Linked DNA regions of Homo sapiens: regions 1, 2 and 4 are each reported to be linked to region 3. The links are microRNA targets in miRTarBase. Many come from high-throughput screens and were not tested one by one. Region 3 holds a microRNA gene; each other region holds the end of a gene's coding sequence. Distances are between the middles of the regions.

The links. The annotated mature microRNA hsa-miR-143-5p reads GGUGCAGUGCUGCAUCUCUGGU and lies in region 3 at 2,154-2,175, shown strand. An mRNA with a match to its seed (bases 2 to 7 or 8) in the 3' UTR can be bound and repressed. Matches are read on the target gene's strand: a 7mer-m8 pairs with bases 2 to 8, a 7mer-A1 pairs with bases 2 to 7 and ends in A, and an 8mer does both.
Region 1: miRTarBase lists VWC2 as a target of hsa-miR-143-5p. Seed matches in the 3' UTR shown: 7mer-A1 at 612-618.
Region 2: the mRNA of ADCY2 is a reported target of hsa-miR-143-5p. The part of its 3' UTR that is shown has no 7-base or 8-base seed match.
Region 4: miRTarBase lists LUZP1 as a target of hsa-miR-143-5p. Seed matches in the 3' UTR shown: 7mer-A1 at 2,768-2,774.

What each region holds. Positions count from the first base shown.
Region 1 is chr7:49,911,991-49,914,990 of GRCh38, forward strand. VWC2 (von Willebrand factor C domain containing 2) reads left to right here. Exons shown (of 4, transcript NM_198570.5): 4 at 44-3,000. The coding sequence ends at 195. It also overlaps a transcript of ZPBP not described here. Among named protein-coding and RNA genes, the nearest start is that of VWC2, 140 kb to the left of the region's middle.
Region 2 is chr5:7,826,616-7,829,615 of GRCh38, reverse strand. It overlaps ADCY2 (adenylate cyclase 2), which reads right to left. Exons shown (of 25, transcript NM_020546.3): 25 at 1-2,897. The coding sequence ends at 2,745. Among named protein-coding and RNA genes, the nearest start is that of CFAP90, 23 kb to the left of the region's middle.
Region 3 is chr5:149,426,791-149,430,135 of GRCh38, forward strand. MIR143 (microRNA 143) reads left to right here and starts at 2,128; the gene lies at 2,128-2,233. It overlaps CARMN (cardiac mesoderm enhancer-associated non-coding RNA), which reads left to right. Exons shown (of 5, transcript NR_105060.1): 4 at 2,093-2,249.
Region 4 is chr1:23,086,091-23,089,090 of GRCh38, reverse strand. LUZP1 (leucine zipper protein 1) reads left to right here. Exons shown (of 4, transcript NM_001395462.2): 4 at 38-3,000. The coding sequence ends at 196. Among named protein-coding and RNA genes, the nearest start is that of MIR3115, 43 kb to the right of the region's middle.

The DNA of each region.
Region 1 (3,000 bases), not on the chromosome of region 3:
ATTTATGCACACATATAGTATAAAACATTTTTCTGCATTTCAGGTCCAAACTGCTTTGCAGAAACCGCGGTGATCCCTGCTGGCAGAGAAGTGAAGACTGACGAGTGCACCATATGCCACTGTACTTATGAGGAAGGCACATGGAGAATCGAGCGGCAGGCCATGTGCACGAGACATGAATGCAGGCAAATGTAGACGCTTCCCAGAACACAAACTCTGACTTTTTCTAGAACATTTTACTGATGTGAACATTCTAGATGACTCTGGGAACTATCAGTCAAAGAAGACTTTTGATGAGGAATAATGGAAAATTGTTGGTACTTTTCCTTTTCTTGATAACAGTTACTACAACAGAAGGAAATGGATATATTTCAAAACATCAACAAGAACTTTGGGCATAAAATCCTTCTCTAAATAAATGTGCTATTTTCACAGTAAGTACACAAAAGTACACTATTATATATCAAATGTATTTCTATAATCCCTCCATTAGAGAGCTTATATAAGTGTTTTCTATAGATGCAGATTAAAAATGCTGTGTTGTCAACCGTCCTCACCGTGTACCTGCATATCTTTTTCAGTTCTGATTCCATCACCCAGGAATGTTCCCCCTGCACATTTTCACAGGGCAGAGTCACGCATGAATGGATCATAAGATATTAGGACCAATTTCCACTGAAACCCTGTTTAAATTCTATTTAATTACAGACATATCTCTAATGTTGATGTCTACTTCACATAAATATATTTCCTTTTTATAATAATATATGGCTTTTATCTGCTTCATTCTCAGTCACTTGTGAAATGCAGGTGTAAAGATCACTAACTCACACTTTCTCAGTTCTTTCCCCTAAGCTCCTGTATTGTACACCATAGGTAAGCACATACATATATTTCATTCTTATTTACATTATTTTCTCTTCTAAGGATAACTTTAATTCATTCCCTAAACTGAGGAATAAAGTAGGCTGGAAAATTTGCATTACTGTTCCATCAAGCTGAAGCAGACAACAAAATAGGGGAGGAGTCCTTCGATTCTCCTAGGATAGTTAAGGAAAATCAAACTCCTAAACAAGTTTATATACCTGAAATCTAAATGTGCTACAGATAACTCAGCTGTCAGTTCAGTGGAATCATATTTGTCATCAGACTTGAGTCATCTATCCTCCATAAACTACACAGTAAAATCTTGACTGATAACCTTGAATTAGCCACCCTTCACAAGCAGAGTGAGGAAGCAGTTATTTTGTTAAAACAAAGCTGAAGACCAAGTGCACTCCACAACTTTCCTATAGTTATAATTCCAAACCAACTTCTTTTCTCTTCATTTGAACAGAGAACATAAAAAGCCACTGCAAAGTCCTGCTAATCTAATTAATGCATAATAGAAAATAGTTCTACCTTTATCAATCATATCAGCATGCGGTGTGTTGATGAAAGAGGTAATTGGAGTCTTAATAGGTGTAGGATAAAAAAAGCAAAACTATAATCACTATTAATGTCTTTAAAGGATTAAAATATATATAATCATTATTTGAAGCCTCTAAAGGTATTTTTCATATTTTTGTTTATTCTGAAATTTTGCATTAAGAACCTATTAAGTACAAAGCATTGACAACAAGGGAATAAGGCTTGATTTCTTGCCTTCTTGGACTTTCGGTCTCTGGCATAAGAAGTATATGAAATCATAATGTATTGTATTAGGAGCCAAACTAGAGACCAGCAAATGGAGATTAGAAAGCCTTCCTAATGAGAAGATGGAGAACATGAAAAAATCATTATATAAAAAATAATTCAATCATTAAAGACTGAATAACATTCAAGAAAAATGGATACATCTATCATAATTGAAAAATTAAACTATTGTGAACCTTAGTAAGTATAAAGATGCCACTGACTGAGTCATCAAAACACTACATATAGTCATTTAATTTTTGTCTTGTTCATAAAGAACACCTTGAGCCAAAGGAACTACCAGTACATAGATTTCATGAAAATACTCAGGGGAATTATTAGCTAATTGTTCTCAGGTGTAATCAGCTTTCCAAAATTTAACCTTTGTATTAAAGACTGGTAGACATTGGCCATCCCTCCTTTATTCAAGGATGGATTGTTTGAGACACAGTTATTTAAAGTTGTCGTTTTGCTAATAAATGGCCCTAGCCCCCATGGGTAGGTGGGCCATTAGTAACCTCTTCTCTCTCCATCAGGCATGATGCAGTTAGAGACTCAGTCCATGCAGCTCAAAGTCTTCCTGTTTCCCTTAATAATAATTCCTACCAGAATGGATGATGAGCTCTGAAATAATTGCAATGGTGTTTTCAATGCTGTGAGAATTTCAGAAAACCTAGTATTTTGTTGCATATAGAGAGAATGAACCCAGTATCATCTTGGGAAGTTAACTGACTCACTTGCTCTAAACTTAGTTTGACCTGCAGGGTCACCAGCACACACTCCTAAGAGCTAAAGCTCAATGGCTGTTATTACACCAAAGTAACTCCCCTCCCCATCTCTGATTTCAACCCCCTCATTCCTCTCTCCTCATAGAAATAATGCATAAACCAAACACATGGAAGAACTTGGATTTTTGACACTGTATATACTCATTAATAATAATGGCATTATTTGCATTTTTGTCCAAGATCAACTTCTTCTTGCAGTTAGACTTTCACAAATACATAGCTATCTCAGATTGACATTCTATTTTCCTCCCCTCTGTTGTCAGAGAACTCTTTGCTGAGATTGTCAACAACAAACTGTTCTATTCAATAAATAACCTGAATAACTGCCCAATAAAAAAGGAAAGTATAAGTTACTCAATTTCAAAATAATATGGTTTGGAGATAGCACAGAAAAGGGGGCCTCAGAATTCAAGTATAGAAGTTCTGGAAAAGCCATAATCACTAAAATTCAAATAGGCCTGCTCTATAAGTACCTAATAATTGTTAAATGATTTGTTCAAGTTAATAAACTAAATCGTGCTTACAAATGTATTAATGA
Region 2 (3,000 bases), 140 Mb from region 3:
ATGAGAGGCTTCCTGTAAGACTTAAAGGTTAAGGAGAGCATTGGGGAGAGATTTTTTTTTTTTCTTGAAGCCAATGGCACTGGGACCTGGGCTGATGAGAGGTGCACTGCCAGTTTTCTGCCTGGCATTTTTGCTCACAGGGATGCTTTTAGCTGCCCAGAACTTTAAGGAGCTTTGACCAGGAATAATGCTCTTTCAGATTCAAGGAACAGGCAGTTTTCCATTCTAGCCTGGCCTCAACTGCTAATCAACTGTGGAACTCTGAACACATGTGCCTGAATTACTCTGCCCCTGTTTCCTCACCTGCAAAAACACTGGGGAGGGAGGGAGGTCTGAAGCTTGATCAGGGATCAGAATCACCTGGAGAACCTGTTCACTAAACAGCAGTTGTGCTGGGCCCCAGCCCCGGGGATCTCAAATTCAGGGTCCTCCTTCAGGTTGGGGCCTGAGAATTTGCATTTTTGATAAGTTCACAGGGGATGCTAAGGCTGCTCCTATGGGACCACACCTAGAAGGGACCAGGTACACACAGAGCTTCCCATAGTGGATTCTGACAATGACTCAATGCTTTTAAAAGCCTATTGTTTGGTAAGACTGGTGATATGGCTTTGGGAGAGCACAGTTCTCCTTTTGAGTTCTTTTTAGCGCAAACCCAAGTTCGGTGCACCCCGTGGGGGAATGGGAGGGACTCTGTTTATGAGAACTTGGTGGACCACCCAGCTGGGGGTGTTCACTCAGGGTAGGTGAACTAAGGTGACCTGCGGATGAGTGTAGCAGGATGTAACAGAGGAAGAACCCACGAGGCACGCCTGCTGCTCATCCTTACACATTTTACACCAAGGCCAGTTTGAGCTCACGGAAACGCTACGGCATCCGTGAAGAATGAGTTAGAGGAAAGAGAAAAGCCCTTGTAATAATTCTCTTGCTTTAATCACTGTTTTTGGAGATTTAGGTATATTAAGGCCAATGCTGAGTTGTGATTACAGGATCAAAAAATTCCCCATTGAGGCAGAATACTAAATAAGTCATGCTCTACTCACACTTCGGTGATGAAGGACGGTTATCAGCTTCGATAAGTGCCTTTTACTGGGAATGAGTCACAGTCCTGGCACAGCAGCTGTGCCCGTGCTGTGAATGTACCACGGGGCACCTGCCAGGCTCGCTCACAGTCATTGCCTCGTTTAATCACTAGCGAGTCCATAAGTTGCCAATAAGGAAAGTACTCCTAAGAGGGACTAAGAGATGTGTTCAAAGTCACACAGCCAGTAAAAAATCAGAGCCAGGATTCAAACCAGGAACTTGTGCTTCAAGTTCGAGTTCCCACGAATAAAAGGCTTCCTAAGAGATCATCTGGGTTCTCTACTTCTTACAGATGCCTGCCATGAGTTATAAAAAGAAAACAAGTTTGACCAACTGGGCTACAATTTGCAGTTTTGCTTTTAAACATTAGCTTATACACGATTGCTCTACTTTTCACTATTTGGCAAAGTATGATTTCTTTATGTTAAAAGTACCAAACAACTTGTGTTGGATTTACAAGAACAAATTCTTCAAGGCCTTCTGTCTTTAAAAATGCATGAACGTTGGCTGTGTGTCTTCTTTAGCCTTCTCAGACTTAACAGGCAGTTTGTGGGTCTTAGTACTTCTCTCAGTTAGCTCACGCTATTGTGAGACTGATTTGCATAGCTGATTCCAAATTATTCTTTTGCAGTCTATGTCTGTTAGCTCTAGCAAAACATTCTTGGAGACAGGAGCGTAGTGGACGGAGGGGGCACTGTTGCTCGCAGAGAATCTTTTTACTATTAAAGTATTTTTCCCTGAAAGCGTTCTCTAGAGATGCCCAAATTAAAATCAGACCACTAGATACATTCAACATGCTTGCCTGCTTTCCAGGGAGCTGAGTAACCAGTTATCTGCGTCACACACTGTGTCCTAATCTGAATTACATCTCAATATTGGCTTCTGGAGAGCTCTTTCTGAAACAACTGTGTCAAAAGGGAGAATGGATGGAAAACAAACCTTAATTCTGGAGCAAACCACAGGAGAAAGAAGACAGGAAAATAAAAGATACAGGCACTGTAAATCAAAGTACATAAAACTTTTAATGAATTAACTTTACAAAAGACAAATGGCATCAAAACATCAGACGAGTTTGATACAAAACTGGTCCTAGGCTGTGAGGACTAATTCTGGTGACGGATGGCGACGTGCTGCTGGCATGAGACACACGGAGCAGAGGGACGAGAGCCGTGGGTCCCAACGGGGGCCCTTGGACACCACTGGCAATGAGACAATGGGTGAGCACAGAGTCCACGTGGGGGACAGAATCAACTTATTCACGAATACTGTGTGTTTGAATATCAGATGAGCAGATGCGGTTGGCGAGCTACCATATTTTCCAGAAAAGAACATGCACCAGAAGATAATATACACCCCCTAGTTTTATTGCCTTAAGAATGTGTGTGTGTTTCACCTTTCTCCTCTGTTAGTTCTCCCAGTGCTTTTCTTCTATCACGCGCGCTCCTTTTCCCTTTTGCTTAGGAGCAAGCACAGTGCAAGTGGCAGAACGATCTGGGCACACATCAGACACCAAACGGTATGCCACTGGGTCACGAGAACGAGTCTGCAGAGGCTCCATAGGACAGACAGCACGCACATCAAAAACAAGGGACAGAAGTTGCAGTCAGAAAGTGTGTGATACCTTCCTGAAAATACAGTCTTCTTGCCAAAATGAAGGTGACTCTTCAGGATGCCACGTTGCTCTGGGAAAGGGACCTTGACATTTCTGTGTTTACAAAGTACGTCTTCAGGTCCCCCTTTCCTTTCACGTTGATTATTCCTCGACAGGTGCACGTGTATCCGAGGGTCTGCAGGACGAGGCTCGTCTCCTCGGTAACCTAGAAGGCACAGGAACACGGGAAAACGGGCTTAGTACATACATTGATACAACCCATCTGACTCAAGGATGCAGAGCTAAAAAAAGCACCATGCTCTTTGACC
Region 3 (3,345 bases):
GGTTTCACCATGTTGGCCGGGCTGGTCTCGAACTCCCAACCTCAGGTGATCCGCCTACCTTGGCCTCCCAAAGGGTTGGGATTACAGGTGTAAGCCACTGCTCCCAGCCTTTTTTTTTTTTTTTATTAGAGACAAGGGCTCCCCATGTTGCCCAGGCTGATCTTGAACTCTAGGCTCAAGCGATCCTCCTGCCTGAGCCTCCCAAAGTGCTAGGATTACAGGCATGAGCACTGCTCCCAGCTCTGTTTTTGTTTTTTTAAGGAGGTATATTTTTTCTGTTCTCTCTCAGCCCTGAAGAAAGGCTACCCATCCCCTTCAGACATTCCTGAAAATATATGTCATCCAACATCAAGGCCACCACAGTGACCACTAAGCAATGCAAGAAGGTCCTCTGGGGTGCCCTGAGATCTTGGCAGGGCAGGAAGAGTGAGAAGGGGCTTTGCCTGCTCACCTGAAAGTTCCCACCCAAGCCGGGCCCAGAAAACAAAATGAATTATCTACATGGTCATCCAATCAGCCACCAAATGGCATTACCTAGGTCCATCATCATGTACCAAGCCACAGGTCAGACCCAGGGCCCCCCAAATTAACAAGACACAGGCACTGTCCTCAGGAAGTGGAGATCTAGCCAGGTCAGACCCACACACAAATAACACTGATACTAGAGATAATGAGATTGGGAATTATGATTCAGCCATTCAACCTGGGCTTATGTGGCATCTACACCACCTGGCCCTGATTTCAGTAGTGAGCACAGTTGACAGGGTCCCTTCCCTTCACAGGTGAGCCATGTAGTCCACAAGTGGAGGTGGTCGTAAGTGAAAACCACATTACCAGCATGGTAAAGGGTTAGAAAGAGGGCACCGGGTGGGCGAGAACATGAAGCAGGGGGTGCTGATGGCTAAAGAAGTAAAGGAGGGGCTGGGCACTGTGGTTCATGCCTATAATCCCAGCACTTTGGGAGACCAAGGCGGGTGGATCACCTGAGGTCAGGAGTTCTAGACCAGCCTGGGCAACGTGGTGAAACCCTGTCTCTACTAAAAATACAAAAATTAGCCAGGCATGGTGGTGCACGCCTGTAGTCCCAGCTACTTGGGAGGCTGGGGCATGAGAATTGCTTTAACCCGGAAGGTGGAGTTTGCAGTGAGCCGAGATCGTGTCACTGCACTCCAGCCTGGGCGACAGAGGGAGACTCTGTCTCAAAAAAAAAAAAAAGTCAAGGAGGGTTTCCCAGAGTGGCCACTTGATTAGAGACCTAGCACAGGAGGAAGAGATGGGCAGGGAGAGTGACGGGGAGCAGCACAGTCCCTGGGAGCCCGAAGTGGGTGGGCACAGGGCTCCCTAGGAGAATGGAAGGACATCTATGAGCTGTAGCCCAAGAGGAAGAGGTCACTGGGGCTAGATGCGGCAGACCCTCGCAGGCTTTGGGAAGGGCTTCAGAATTCAGCCTGAGGGCAATGGGGAGCCCTTTTGGGATATTAAACTTGAGTAAGATATGAGCATATTTGCATCTTGAAAAATCATTATGGGAAGATGGCTGGGAAGAGAGGAGGAGTGGCAGAAGAAAGATAGGTTGGAGACAATTGATTGCTCGATGATATAAAATGTTAAGTACCATGAATGATGCTGTTAGGCTGGAATGCGCCAAGCATAAAGGTGGGGCATGGCATCAAAAGGTAGGTCAACATATTAAATAATTCCATGTATTGAAATATCCAGAAAATATATAGACAGATCTATAGAGATAGAAACTGGTCTGCCCAGGACTAGGGGTTGTCTAAGGATAAGGAGCTTCTTTTTTGGATGGTGAAATAACCTAAAATATATTGTGCCATTGTTTGCACAACTTTGTGAATATATTAAAAACCTGTTAATTGTACTCACTAAATGTCCTCCTTCTAAATTAAGCTGTTCTTGACAAGAAAAGGAAAGAAACAAAGAAAAGAAGAGAAAAAAGGTCAAGGTTTGGTCCTGGGTGCTCAAATGGCAGGCCACAGACAGGAAACACAGTTGTGAGGAATTACAACAGCCTCCCGGCCAGAGCTGGAGAGGTGGAGCCCAGGTCCCCTCTAACACCCCTTCTCCTGGCCAGGTTGGAGTCCCGCCACAGGCCACCAGAGCGGAGCAGCGCAGCGCCCTGTCTCCCAGCCTGAGGTGCAGTGCTGCATCTCTGGTCAGTTGGGAGTCTGAGATGAAGCACTGTAGCTCAGGAAGAGAGAAGTTGTTCTGCAGCCATCAGCCTGGAAGTGGTAAGTGCTGGGGGGTTGTGGGGGGCCATAACAGGAAGGACAGAGTGTTTCCAGACTCCATACTATCAGCCACTTGTGATGCTGGGGAAGTTCCTCTACACAAGTTCCCCTGGTGCCACGATCTGCTTCACGAGTCTGGGCATGTCCTGACTCCTCTGTGTACCCCAGTGTGTCCATCTTAGCATGAGGCGTTAGCATTTCCCCAGCACCCTGCCTCTGCTTTCTCTTTCTGAGCCCATGGCAGACACAGCTAATCAGTAAAGGCATATATTCTTTTTTTTTTGAGACACAGTCTCACTCCATCACCCAGGCTGGAGTGCAGTGGCATAATCTCAGCTCACTGCAACCTCCTCCTCCCAGGGTCAAGCAATTCTCGTGCCTCAGCCTCCCAAGTAGCTGAGATTACAGGTGTGCGCCACCACACCTGGCTAATTTTTGTATTTTTAGTAGAGATGGGGTTTCACTATGTTGGCCAGGCTGGTCTCAAACTCCTGACTTCAGGTGATCTGCCCGCCTCGGCCTCCCAAAGTGCTGGGATTACAGGCATGAGCCTCCACGCCCCGCCAGGCATCCATTCTTGAAGTGCTCAGATGCAGCTTCAGAATCCTCAACAATGAGCCCTGGAAAGCCACTAGTACTGATTCACAGCTGAAACTCATTCATCATTTGTGGATCAAACAATTCCTAAAAACCCTTTCAGCCCTGAAGATAAAAATTCTGGCCTTTGAGTCAGGGTCTTCACTCTGTACTTCTAACCTTGGCTCCGGGGTATTGCCGAAACCAGTCCAGGCACGTCACAAATGTCTGACTTCTCCCAGAGGCTTCAGAAGCACAATGAGCAGCAGAGGAGAGCCATGGAGCCAAGCACAGTCTCATTTAACCTCCCCAAAAGCTTGGGAAGTGGGTGGTGTTATAGCCCCATTTTACAGATGAGAAAAACTGAGGCTTATTTAAGCAGCTCACCTAAAGTCACATATTGATTGTGCTGAGCTGAGATTGTACCCTAATCTGCCTTCAAATCCATGTTTTTACCCATTGCATGTGATTATGGAACCTGGGACCGAGGAGCAGGAGGAGAACATTCTAAATTCTGCTC
Region 4 (3,000 bases), not on the chromosome of region 3:
GACCTCCACAGCTCACTTTTGTTATTTATTGGCACAGGAGGAAGAAGGGGAAGACTGTACACTCAGTGTCTACAGGCAACTGCACAACTCCCTGGATCCGTCTGAACTGCCTGGGAAGCAGGGGCTGCCAGAGTCTGGGCGAGTACGGGCCGAGGAACGATTACGGCCAACCAGGCCCTGTGCTGAGGAGAACTGAGCCCGCTGGGTGTCTGTTGTCTGCCCTCTGCTCCTGCTTCTCAGCTCTTCCACCGTCCTGCCCCACGAAGGATCCAAGGCCAGTTAACCAGGCAAGACACAAGCCTTGGCTGGAAAACTGTGGTAGAGCCGGGCTGTGGCTCAGGTAATTTTTGCCATTTGGCCAGAGGGAATCAGAGACTACAAGCTGGACAGTCACCCAGGCCCAACCTTCCCCAATGCACGAGTCCTCTCTCTCTCCTTGTCCCTGTCCACCAAGTAGTTGGACCATTCTGGCCCCCAAACAAGGGAAGATAAAGTCCCCAGCACACAGCAGGAGTCAAAAATTCTTCTCGGCTCCTTGGTGGGTTGTTTCTGGATCCTAGGGCAGCCTCTGTCTGTGTGGTTAATGTTCTGGTTTCTCAGTCTCCTCACTATATCCACTTCACTCCTCATTTGCCCAATGGGCTCAAGTACCCCATAAGATTTACCAGCCATCAGCTCTATCTAGGGGGCTTTCATTTCTTTCCCCTTGGAGTTCTTTTCTTCAGACTTAAAGCAGAAAGGGGTCTGTGCTGCCTCTAAAGGATTATGAGACTACCCTTTAGGTTGAAGTTTGACCTGGCTCCTGGCTTACCAGTCTCCTGGAAGCAGAGCATGCAGATACTCATGCGGATACCCATTGGAATGACATCATCCCTCCCCAACCCCAGCTCTCTCTGCTCACCTTCCAAAGGCACCTGGAGGTGCAAGCCTCATGCATCTCCTTTCCTGAGCACCAGTAATGCTGCTGGCATCGCCTGCTTTCTCTCCAGTGGCTGGAGACTTCAAGCTGACTTCATTGTTTCCACCTTGGGAAAATCCCTAGGCTAAGCTGGGCCTGACCCAGCATCCTCTGCCTTCTAGGAAGTGCCCAGCAAGAGGGAAAGCAGACCCCTTTAGTCACTCCACAAGCAATAGCTCCATGAGAGGCATGGACTGTGAGACTACTCCCTCCTGTTCCTCCTTCTCCATCCCCCATGGAGGAGGCATCGCACTTTACCAAGCTGATGCATTCCTACAGAAGTGGGCCCCGGATTTCTGCAAGTCGACTATCATGATGACTTCGCTGGAGGAAAGGTGATACGTACATACGCATTGAGGGCCTCAGCTTTATATAGTTCAAAATGCAGCAAACTTTTCAGAAAGCCACGTAAATAAATTGGTTAGGTTCCTTATACCAGTCACATGGGGAAGTTGAAAAGAATTGTATATTCTTGGCAGTGCTTTTTCTTTAGCATTCTGTCAATTCAAAGAAGGGATCCTCTTTCAAAGGCTACCTTTATGAAGTAGACACTATTGCCCTCAGAATGAGAGAACATTAAACTACCAGTCTGGTAAGCTGGATTTTTTTCCCCATGGCTTTACTTCCTTGCTGTGTGACCTTGGGTGAGTCATTGTCTTCTTGGAGCCTCAGTTTCCCTGTCTGTAAAATGAGTTCTTTGAAATGGATGATCTCTAAGGGCACCAAATCTGGTATTCTAAGGTTCTCCTGTTTTCACCATCTATAATAGTATGGGATGATTTTTGCTTGTGGAAGGTATCATCCGTGTGGGTTCTTCCCTCCTGCCCTCAATTGTTTTTCTGGGCCTTGTTTTTTAGTTTCTGTATGTTTTAATCTCATGGGGATGAGCTCAGAGAAGCTCCGTGGGCCTGTTTCCCAATCTGCAAAGTGTGAAGGGATTAGATGGGATGGTCTCTGAGGCTCTTTGTGGCATCAGCCTTGCCCAGTGCCACACAGTATCTCCTGGCGTTCTAGGAGTCTAGGTATTATGGAAAGTACCCAAGTCTGTGTATCTCCTGTTCCTGTGCATCTCCTATGAATTTCCTGGCAAGAGGAAGACTCAAGACTTCCTCCAGAGGAATTTGTCTTCTCTGCCTTCACTCAGCATGGGAACCAGTGTTCATCCTGACCTTGTCTGTATCAGATTTGGCAGTGAGGAGGCTTGGGGAGCACCTACCTTACTTTCAGGGACAGGAATCTATTGCTCATACTTCTGCTTCCCAGAGTTTTGCCAATCTAAAGGCATTGTCATGTGGCCTGCCTTTCCTGTCCACATCCCCACCTCTGATGCTCAAGATGCTATTTCCAAGATCTCTTACTGCTGCTTCTCCTGGCTTACTGGCCAGAAACTAGCTCACTCAAGGCTGCCATCCTTCACTTGCAGCCTCCCTGCCATTCTCCTTCACTGGTTGGCAACCTTGAGAGTTCAAAGAAAATCAACCTCTGTGGTGGTCAACTAAAGGTATTAGGAAACTAAGTCTGTGGCTCTTCTCTGCTGATGGAAACAGAAGGGCGCCAAGCCATGCCTAAAAAGATCTCGCCAATAATTCTTGTCTTTGAGTGTTGGAGCCCTGGATTCTGGTGCTATAGCTCCTGGTGCCAAAGTCTGGATCTTTCCACATTTCAGCAGCACCAACATCTGCTGCTACTCAAAATGTCCTGTTGAAGAGGGACAGCTGTGATGCCCTTTTGCTGGGGCTGCCATCTTGAAATCTGAGTGCAATAGGATTTGCTTGTAACAGTTATTTCAGGATATTTTGTTTCTTTAATCTGCACACTTTCTAGATAGATTTTATTTTTAAGTGTCCTCAGCATTGCAGAAAATAACATTGTAATAGCAAGTAAAGGCTGGAGGCTGTTTCTCTGGGCTTCAAATGGCTGGCAAGGCTGGCTCTCAAATCCCAAAGTTGGGAGGCATGTTTCTGAAAAGCAACTGAGGTGTGACTGTTTGGACCCAGGCCTCATCATCAGGGGTCCTGGAGGAAGCCTCCAAGTAGAGGGGA